Regions from separate parts of the Homo sapiens genome. Here region 2 is linked to region 1. Evidence: fine-mapped expression QTL. A gene starts in region 1. The other region holds a variant in brackets. All regions are shown on one strand. Distances are from middle to middle. Region 1 holds the start of LINC00922 (long intergenic non-protein coding RNA 922). Region 2 has its middle 240 kb from the start of CDH5.

What was found. PIP is the estimated chance that this variant, and not a neighbour inherited with it, causes the effect. A credible set is the group of variants that fine-mapping cannot tell apart.
Region 2: its variant is the best candidate, but not a certain one, in a credible set for the expression of LINC00922 in lung (TOPMed, PIP 0.62).

The regions. Positions count from the first base shown.
Region 1 is chr16:65,573,843-65,579,223 of GRCh38, reverse strand. It overlaps LINC00922 (long intergenic non-protein coding RNA 922), which reads left to right and starts at 2,927. Exons shown (of 10, transcript NR_174971.1): 1 at 2,927-2,985.
Region 2 is chr16:66,121,293-66,126,673 of GRCh38, reverse strand. No RefSeq gene overlaps it. Among named protein-coding and RNA genes, the nearest start is that of CDH5, 240 kb to the left of the region's middle. The variant A/G (reference allele first, on the strand shown) is at 2,514.

The DNA of each region.
Region 1 (5,381 bases):
AACAGTCGAGCACACAGAAGTGCCTCCCCAGCCCCGACATCCTGCTACTGGGAAAACTCAAAACATTCTGGGAACCTGACATCCTTTAACATTTCCCAGGCTGGCAGCTCCAGGGGGTCTGGCCTGTGGATATGGGAGGACATTAAGTGCATGGTTCAGGCAGAAAGCACACAAATGTCCAGTTCTGACCCTAAAGTGGGTTTCCAAATGCTGTGCTGATCTGGAGCCCTCGTGCCCAATGCTAGGGACCAGCATGTGCCACAGATCTCTCTGCTGCCTGCTCCCAGCTTGTGGCTTCTGTTGTCCTTGCCGGCTGGCCACAGGCTTGGCCACAGTTGGCTGGCTGTGACCAGACAGAAGAACAGAATGATAGATGTCACCGGAAGAGCAGGTTTTCCATCTTTAGAAAATGAGGCAGGGGGGCACAGTGACCAGGCCTGGGCAATATAAAGCAGATCGAAGATCAAGCCCAGACTCAGGAATAGACAGTTGTGTATTTGAATCCCAGCTTTGCCCCTTGCTAGCTGTGTGGCTTTGGGAAACATCACCTGCCTTTTTTGAGCCTGTTGTTACTTCCTCTGTGCACTGGGGAAAATATATCTTACATGGTTATTGTGAGAATCCAAACACACAAAGAACTGAGTAATAAAGTACTTAGCTCTGGGCTTGGCACATAGCCGCCATGACATAAGTGGTGATCTTTGATTTAGTAAGTTTAATTTTCAGTCATAAACCTGAGTTTGAGACCAGCTTTGGTCATTTAAGAGATATGCTGCTTTGGGCTACCCATCCAGTCTTTCAAATATCATTTTCCTTACTTATAAGACAAAGTAACACCCAACTCACGGAAGTGTTACACTTCCAAGAAGCCTTCTCTGATCCCCTGTCATGTGGAGTGTGGCATTTCAGGCTTCATGTGCTCTTGATAAAACACAGATCCTACTTCTATAGCTGTGGCAGGGCCTGGGCTACTGCATTTTGAATAAGCATCCGGGTGATGCTGATGCTTCAGGTCCGTGGACCATGCTTTGAGTAGCAAGGATGTAGAATTTGTTATTCCTTTTTTTTGTGTATCTCCATTATCATAATGGTAGTCATAAGCATGTTTGGAGATGTGTTTGCGTGTGTGTGTGTGTGTGTCGGGGGGTGTTTTCTCATGTCTCCCTTGTGACTGGGCACACCTATAGGACAGGGACAATGTCTCCTCTCTCTCTCTCCATTCTTCACAAATGAGTCTTCCATTGACCAGAGCTCAAGACAACTTTCACAGGCAGGAGGGTAGCAGCTGCTTCCTCTGTCCACCTTCTGATGCTTTGAATCAAGTCGGCCACTGTGATCTAGGATGGGGAAGCCTAGCTACGTTTACTGAGTAACTCTGTTGTTCCATCTTAGGGACCCTCCACTGCCATTTATTCTCAGAATCCAGTGTCCCTAGGGCCACTTTGCTCATGAACAGAGCTTTCTCTTCACCTCCACCCCCTGCTATGTTGGCTTCTAGAATTCGGTCCTGGGCTTTGAGCCCAGGGTCCAGTGTCCCTTCAGTCTGATGCCTGCTAGTTTCTACTTATGGACCTATAGGCTGACGCCCTGGATGGAGAGTCATTGACCACTCACCTGAAGCCTCAGGCTTGGCACTCTTTGTCCCCATTCCTGGATCTGTGACCTCAGTGCTGGAAATCTGAGTTAGCTCTCAGTGCCCTGGGGAAGCTGGGCCTGACCCCTGAACTGAACCAACAGAGGGTGTTCACTGCTTTCCCGCTCACCAAACCCCACTCCCTCTGCTCAGCTCATATCACATTTGGTCTGGTTGGAGCCCCCTCCAAAATGACCTCATGCTTCTCAGTGTGCAGAGTCATGAACCAGGGAATCACCAAATTGTTGACGAAATGGTTGAAATATGGGAAGAAGTAATGCTTTTCAGGTAAGAGAGAAAGAATAAAGAACACAATCTCCTCTTCAGGCTTATCAAGGTGCTCTGAGTATCTAGGGGTAGACATGAGTGTATGAATCAAAAGTCAGAGGAAGCTTTTTTTTTGAGACAGAGTCTTGCTCTGTCACCCAGACCTTAGTGCAGTGGTGCTATCTCGGCTCACTGCAAACTCAGCCTCCCAGGTTCAAGCAATTCTCCTGCCTCAGCCTCCTGAGTAGCTGGGATTACAGGCACCTGACACCACGCCCAGCTAATTTTTGTATTTTTGGTAGAGACGGGGTTTCACCATATTGGCCAGGCTGGTCTGGAACTCCTGACCTCAGGTGATCCGCCCGCCTGGGCCCCGCAAAGTGCTGGGATTACAGGCGTGAGCCACGGCGCCCAGCCAGAGGAAGCTTTTAAATCCTGTGCATTGTCTAAGGCTCCTTCTAGCACCAACAGCGCCCCCTCATGCACAAACACATGCACATGCACACATTCACACTCACCTCCCTCCAGACCCCTGCCACAACGTTGGGCTCAGCCTGTTGTATAGACGCCACTCATGTCAGTTTCATTTAGTTCTGTCTCACTCTGGGTTTCTCTTTCTCTTTTCATCCCTCATTGCCCATCTCTCTCTCTTCCCTTCCATTATCCTCTCCCTCTGTACCTCTCTCCCTCTGTTTCTCTGTTCCCTACCATTCTGGGCCTCTGTCTTGTTCCTTTATCCCTTCCTCACTCTCTCACTCCTGGTGCTGTATTTGTTTCTCCCCTACACTTGTCTCTCAGCTCCATCTGCTTTCTCTGGTTCTTTCTCCCTTGGACCTTGGTATGGTTTGGCTCTGTGTCTCCACCCAAAACTCATCTCAAGTTGTAATCCTCACGTGTCGAGGGAGGCACCTGGTGGGAGGTGATTTTAATATGGAAGTGGTTTCCGCCACGCTGTTCTCGTGATAGTGAATGAGTTCTCACGAGAACTGATGGTTTAAAAATGTGGCACTTCCCCTTCGATCCCTTGCTCGCTGCTGCTGCCACGTAAGAAGTGTGTTGCTTCCCCTTCGTCTTCCACCATGAATGTAAGTTTCCTGAGGCTTTCCCAGCCATGCGGAACAGTGAGTCAGTTAAACCTCCTTTCTTTATAAATTACCCAGTCTCAGGTGGTATCTTTATAGCAGTGTGAAAACAGATTAATACAGGCTGTTTCTCATCTGATTCCATCTCCTAGCGTCTGTGAAGTTCTCTATCTTTCTGTCTCTGTCAGGTCATGAGCATAATTTCCATCTTCACACATACCCCAAAAAAACCAGAGAAGGAGAGCAGGGAATGGGCTGGCTCTTCTCTTCTTCCAAAGCCTGAAAATCTGGCTTGAAGCGCTGGAGCTGGCCAAGCTTTGTGCTGACCAGTAGGCTGCCTTGCTTCTTGGCAGGAGAGTTGCTGGGAGGCCCCACCCAGCGCATGAGGATTAGACAACATCCATGAGGGATGCTGACTGCTAAGACGGACATACACTATTCTCAGATATGAGTTTTCAAACCTCTTGCAAACACATCCTTCCACCCCTCCTAGTGTCCCTCTCTGAGAAAGAAAAATTATTTTTCTCTGTGGCTTCACCTTCATTCTCTGCACTGCAGGGCTCTCTGGAGGGTTGGGTTCACTTCTGTTTTCTTCCCTCTTTCCAGATAACTTACAATAGACATGAATTGTCTTTGTAACAAGAATAAAAAATCATGAAATAAATTAAATGAACGTGTTGGGCTAGGCCATCTTTAGGACCCACCTTTTTGGCGCCCATGTGCTATGATAGCTCCTGACTTTGCCAACACAGAGACAAAAAAGAAACAGCATGCATGGGAAAATTTAGGTTTCTACAGGAAGGAAAGCAATTTTTTTTTTTTTAGATGGAGTCTCACTCTGTCGCCCAGGCTGGAGTGCAGTGGCGCGGTCTCGGCTCACTGCAGGCTCCGCCCCCGGGTTCACGCCATTCTCCTGCCTCAGCCTCCCGACTAACTGGGACTACAGGCGCCCGCCACCTTGCCCAGCTAATTTTTTGTATTTTTAGTAGAGACGGGGTTTCACCTTGTTAGCCAGGATGGTCTGGATCTCCTGACCTCGTGATCCGCCTGCCTCGGCCTCCCAAAGTGCTGGGATTATAGGCGTGAGCCACCGTGCCTGGCCAGGATAGCAATTCTATACAGAAAAGGCCTCTGCTGCTTTGAGGGTCTTTGGGCTTAGAAAGAAGAATCTAAGGTTTATGATCAATATTTTTGAAATATTTTAAAATGAGCACAGCCAATTAGCAGGTGATTGTCACCTGCCCAAGCAATCATTTGGCTGCTCTAAGCTTCTGTCCCAAGGAGCCAAAAAACTGGGACATCAGGGATGACAGAGCATTTACGTGGTCTAGCTGTGCCCAGAAAAATCACCTAAGTCCTGTGGATTTTGCAGGTGACATCAAGAATACCAAAGATCCTCTGTATACAAGAATCTTTACTTTTATTTCCTGAGTCATTTTAGGAAGACTGGGGCTATGTCTATGATATTTGCTGACATGACACTCTCTCTTATATCCTGTTCATAGCATCACAAAAACAAATGCTCAGTCTAATTCTATGTGTGTGCCTTGGCTGTATATTACATTATCCCGCAATTAGCACAATGATGGGTGATCAGGGCGAGCAGAATGATATTGCTGTGAGTGACCTATTATTATCCGCCGATTACACTTTACATGGAAATTAAATGAATTCTGTCAGAGCTCTGCAGCCAGGGAGAGAAGAAAATGCCTCATTGTTCGGCTCCCTGAGCTGGAGAGACTGCACGTGGCGATAAAGAGACCTGTGTTTGTGCAAAAACAAGGCGTGGGCTTCCAGTTTAAAAGATGCATTTGTTACACCAAAGCTCGAAATAGGAAATGCGTGTGGGCAGAAACAACGGAGATGAAAGGGGAGAAAACTAATTATTACTACCACCATTTGCGTATTGGGGTATTTATATAATGTGTTAAATTTCTTCTGTTGGGAAAATGTTTGTCATATCGGTGAGAATGAAACTTTACCCTTAGAGGGGGTATTCTTAGGCTTGAACACTTTTAGCTCAGTGAAATTTTTTTTTCCTTGAAATTATCTCCTGCATTCTTTTCTCTGCTCATCTTTCAATGGGCATCATCTTTAAAACATCATCTTTTCCACCTCTCTGTCTCTTTCATGATCTTGCATGTGCCTTTATTGTCTCAATAAGTGTCCCTTTAGATTTCTTTCTCAGGCATATTGCAGGTATCAATACTAAATAAAAAAGAGAGGCAAAATTCTACTGCCTTAGAGGCAGAGTGATTTGGGGAAAGGACATTACAACTGATAAATTTATAAAGAATCAGGAACTTAGAGTTCTTATCTTGGACATAGCTTCAACTAAATGCTCTGAAATGTGAAGACAATGGGAGTGACCTTGCCCTATTGGGAAGGGATTTGAGTTC
Region 2 (5,381 bases), 550 kb before region 1:
ATGGGCTAAGGAAACTCTCCCTCTCCCAAGCTGCTTAGTAGCCATTATTCCTTCTTTCTGTCTTCCCCAGCTTCCTAAGACCAAGCAGGAGCTGTCAACAGCACCCACAGAGAAAAATTGCAGCCACTTCTTGCAAAACTTAATACTGAAAGACATTAGCATTTTATATTTACTTTATTTATTTACTAAAACAAGTAATTGGTGACTTCTAATTCCAGGTGGCACCTGGCAAGCAATTCTTAATACCTTCCAAGGCCCTTCAGATATAATTTTTTTTTTTTTTTTTTTTTTGAGATGGAGTCTTGCTCCGTTGCCCAAGCTGGAGTGCAGTGGCAAGATCTTGGCTCACTGCAACCTCCGCCTCCTGGGTTCAAGCGATTCTCCTGCCTCAGCCTCCCAAGTAGCTGGGACTACAGGCAAGTGCCATCACGCCCGGCTAATTTTTGTATTTTAGTAGAGACAGGGTCTCACCATATTGGCCAGGCTGGTCTTGAACTCCTGCCCTAGTGATCTGCCTACTTTGGCCTCCCAAAGTGCTGGGATTACAGGTGTGGGCCACCGTTCCTGGCCCAGATATACTTTTAAAGTAACAGAAAGGAGCAGAACAGGATATCATTGCCGGAAAACAAGACTGGTAGCTCATGATCCAGGTATCTAGGGCAGTTTCTACACGAAGCAGAATGGAGATTGCTGTTAAATGCCAAAGCGTGTTCTGCCACTCCAGTCTGAATGAATGTATTAGCCAAAAGGGAAGAAGACAGGTCGAGGGGTTCTCCCTCTCTCCGGGCTTCTTGGGCCAGAGGGCTAGTGTCCTGTCTAACCTAAGAACTGAACATCCATCCCAATAGACAGTGGTCCTGCCTTTGAGGCCCTCAGAGCACATTTTATATCTTCCCTCTCCTAGCCACCATCTCAGGACATCCTCTGGCTGCTGTCTGGAGCCCGATGAAAGGACCATTCTGGCCAGAGTGGTTCATGAGCTCAGTGCAGTGGGCAGCAGAGGCACCAGTCAAGCCCTGGAGCAGTGGATTTTGGGAACTGTAGTTTCCAATGAGCGCCTTTGTTTCAAGGAAGCAGGCAGTCAAGGCATAAGATCTCTTTCCCAGCTCTTCCATTTCAGCATAGTTAGTGCGCTTGGTGTGGAATTAATTCTCATATGAACACACCAGCCAACATGTATGAGATTCTTGCTGTTTATTTGAGACCTCTTTCTATTCTGGATTCAGAATTAGAACATTTTGATTAGCACCACACTCTAACCAATTGAGCTAACCGGCCGCTGTGTGAATTAGAACATATTGAAAAACGGAACTCTTACCTTCAGGAAATTGAAATACAACATGACACTAGTAATTACAATGGTTTAGCACAGGAGTAAGACTCAACCGACAGGTGAATAGAATAGAATAGAATAGAATAGAATAGAATAGAATAGAATAGAATAGAATAGAATAGATAGTTCTGTGTGAACTAGAAGTTGGTATAGACTAAAACACCTTCAGAATGAGAACAATAAGGGCATATAGTTCAACAAATCATATCGTGAAAATTGATTATTTGGAAGAAAAATCAATCTAGATAGATCCTCACCTTTTAAAAAAATCCCCAAAATATTAAAAAATTTAACCTTCCCTCATTCAATATACTCTATACAATTAAAAGGCAAACAGCAAACTAGGTGAACATCATACGCATTTGGCAGAAAAAGGGTTAAAACCTTTGCTATACAAAAGGGCCTTCCACTCCAGGAGAAAAACTAGTAAAAGATGTCAACTACAGGTGAAGTCAAAAGGAACTATCTTTACAAGATAGCTTTACATTTTTCTTTTAGAAGAAAAATTCAAAGGCGTTCATTGTAATAACACTTACAAGAACCAAACATTACCCCAAATCCTTGACATGTATAATAATTAAATAGTGGTTAAATAAATTATCAAAAATTTGTGTGGTATAATATTGGGTAACTATTATAATTTTGCTTTAGAAAATACTTACTATCACAGGATCAAATATGAAATTTCGGCCAGGTGCGGTGGCTCACACCTGTAATCCCAACACTTTGGGAGACCAAGGTGGTTGGGTTAACTGAGGTCAGGAGTTTGAGACCAGCCTGGCCAACATGGGGAAACCCCATCTCTACTAAAAATACAAAAATTAGCTGGATGTGGTGGTGGGTGCCTGTAATCCCAGCTACTTGGGAGGCTGAGGCAGGAGAATTGCTTGAACCCAGGAGGCAGAGGTTGCAGTGAGCCGAGATTGTGGCACTGCACTACAGCCTGGGCGACAAGAGTGAGACTTTGTCTCAAAAAAAAAAAAAAAAAAAAAAAAAAATTCATTTTTAAACAGTGTGAAATGAAATATGCTATATAATAACCCATACAAGTGCCTGCATGTACAAGAATAAAAGAGACTCCTTGAACCCATTAACCAATTGTTCTCTCTGCATGATACAATTATATAGGATTCTTAGTTGCTTCTGTATTTTCTTTTTCCTTTTGCGTTTCTGTTTTCCA[A/G]ATTTCCACAAGTTTTTACAAGCAAGTTATATGAGTTATTTTAATAAACCAATAGCTGTTGAATTAATGTATAAAAAGCAAAAATCCACTATGGGAACAAGTAAAAATAGGTGGTGTATATTATTACTAGAATATTATAATATTGTTAAAAACACAATATCTCTTTAATTTATTAACACATTTTAGTTAAAACATGAAGAGGATTTCACTTTTGAAATTTGGCAGAAGGATTAGGAAATAACCTGGGAAAAAACAAATGTGTAAAATTAGGATAATTCTGTAAAAAATAATAATAAAGGAAGGGTGGTGGTTGGAGATGTTAAAATATATCATGAAGATACAATAATCAAAACGTTTGGTTTCAGGTAACAAATGAACAGAATGGAGCCCCTAAATATACTAAATATCCAAGGGAAATTTAGGACAGTTAGTTGACCCTTGAACAACAGGGATTTGAACTGCAGGAATTAACTTACTTGTGAGTTTTCTTCCGCCTCTGCCACCCCTGAGAGAACAAGACCAACCCCTCCCCTTCCTCCCTCTCAACCTCCTCAACTGAATACAATGAGGATGAAGATCTTTATGATGATCCACTTCCACTTAATGAATAGTAAATATATTTTCTTTTCCTTATGATTTTCTTGACATTTTCTTTTCTCTAGCTTACTTTATCGTAAGATACTGTATATAATGCATATGACATACAAAATATATGTTAATTGACTATGTTATCAGTAAGGCTTCCAGTCAACAGTAATAGTAGCTAAATTTTGGGGGAGTTGAAAGTTACATGTGGATTTTTGACAGCGTGGGAGGTTGGTATTCCCAACCGCCAAGTTGTTCAAGGGCCACCAAAGCATGTTAAAAGAAGCACGTCACATCAAATCTTGGGGAGGGAAAAATAGATTTATTTCATTTTACTTATTTATTTTGAGACAGAGTGTCTCTCTGTCACCCAGGCTGGAGTGCAGTGGTGCGATCTCAGCTCACTGCAATCTCCACCTCCTGGGTTCAGGGTTCAAGTGATTCTCCTGCCTCAGCCTCCGGAGTAACTGGGATGACAGGTGCCCACCTCCACACCCGGCTAATTTTTGTATTTTTAGTAAAGACAGGGTTTCACCATGTGAAAAGGCCGAGGCCAGGCTGGTTGCGAACTCCTGACCTCAAGTGATCCGCCTGCCTCAGCCTCCCAAAGTGCTGGGATTATAGGCGTGAGCCACTATGCCCGGCCAGGATGAATTATTTAATACATGAGACAACTGACCAGCAGTTTTGAGTAAAGACAAATTATGAGGCTAGGTCTCTCTTTTTTTCTTTCACTAAACTGACTTCTAAATGGATCACAGTGTGGTGCCCTCCCTGGTTTAGAGAGCGGCAGTGGCTGCTCCTTGCAGTTAGAATGGTGCCATACATGTCCCCGGAAGTCCCTGCCCACCTCTGTGGGGTGATCCCTCCTCTCATGACTGAGGAACTCCTCTGAGGCTGCCCCAGTATCTCTGTGCCTGGGACTCACCAAGCTCCTTCCTGCTCAGCAACTTGGCACCTGGTGTTCTCCTGCCTGGCACACTTGTCCCACACTGCCTCTTTCTCATCTTGCTTATGTGTCCCCTCCTGAGAGACCCCCCTGGGCACCCCCATCCTGCTTTATTTTCACATAATGACATTCATAATCCTGCTTTACTTCAAGTTTATTTTATTTAAATTTATTTTCACATTCACATAATCCTGCTTTATATTCTCCATAGCTCTTGTCATCTTTGAAAATCATTTATTTCTTTTCTCCATTTACCTTTTGTGATGGGCTCATGATGTCCACACTGGGATTAGAGTTTTTGGAGGGCCACTGTCTTGTTCACACAGTAATCCCAGTGCCTACAAACAGTGCCTGGAACAGAGAGGGCACTGAATGAAAAGGAATCTCAATGAATGACCTCGAACCTGAAAATGAAACAAGAGATCAATACCTTTCTAAACGTCCCAGAAAAATGCAAAGCTGTGAAGGAAGGGGATGGGAATTCTAACTAGACATGAATTCATGCATTAAATAAGAACTGGGGAGAGACTACATGTTTCAGGCACTGGTAGAGATGCTGGGCTGCAATGGTGAACAAGACAGACAGGGTCCTGTCCTCAGGGAGCTTGTATTCTGGAGTGGAAATGACAGAGGGAAGCAAACCATAAGTACCTGTACACTGTGGTAAGTGTAAGAAGACAGACATGGAATGGAGACAGAGGATAACCAAGGCAGGCCTCCTTTAAATGGGGGATACCAGAAGCCTCTCTGAGAAGGTGACTCTGAAACCATGGCTCGAAGAATGGAAGTGCCGTCTTCTGTCCGCTATCTGTCGACAAGAGGAAAAAACATTCTAGATGGAAGTTAAACAAGGTACCAAGAACTGACACGAGCAGGAGCTCAGGCATGTGTGGTGCCCAGTGAGTGAAGGGGAGGCATGAGCTGGAGAGACAGGCAGCTTCTGGACCAGGAAGGGCCTTTAAGGTCATGGTAAATTTGCAGAATTTATTCTAAGAATGATGGAAAACAGTAGGAAGGTTTTACGCAAGGGAGCAACATGATCTGGCTTTCGTTTTTAAAAGATTACAGTTGTGGTAAGGGTGAAAATGAAAGGATCTGTTAGAAGGTTATTTTATACATTAAAAAAATCCATGGCAAAAAATATGATAAAGAAATAAATTAATAATAAACCGAGGGGTGGGGGGGGGACAAAAGTGTGTACCATTTAACCAAAGGCTGCTTTCCTGAATGTATAAGAGGGTTATACAAAGTGACGTGGGAGAAAAAGTAGAAAAAATGGGCCAAGGCTATAAACAAGCATTTAATAAGGGAGCTTCTACTTCATCTCCCTCTCT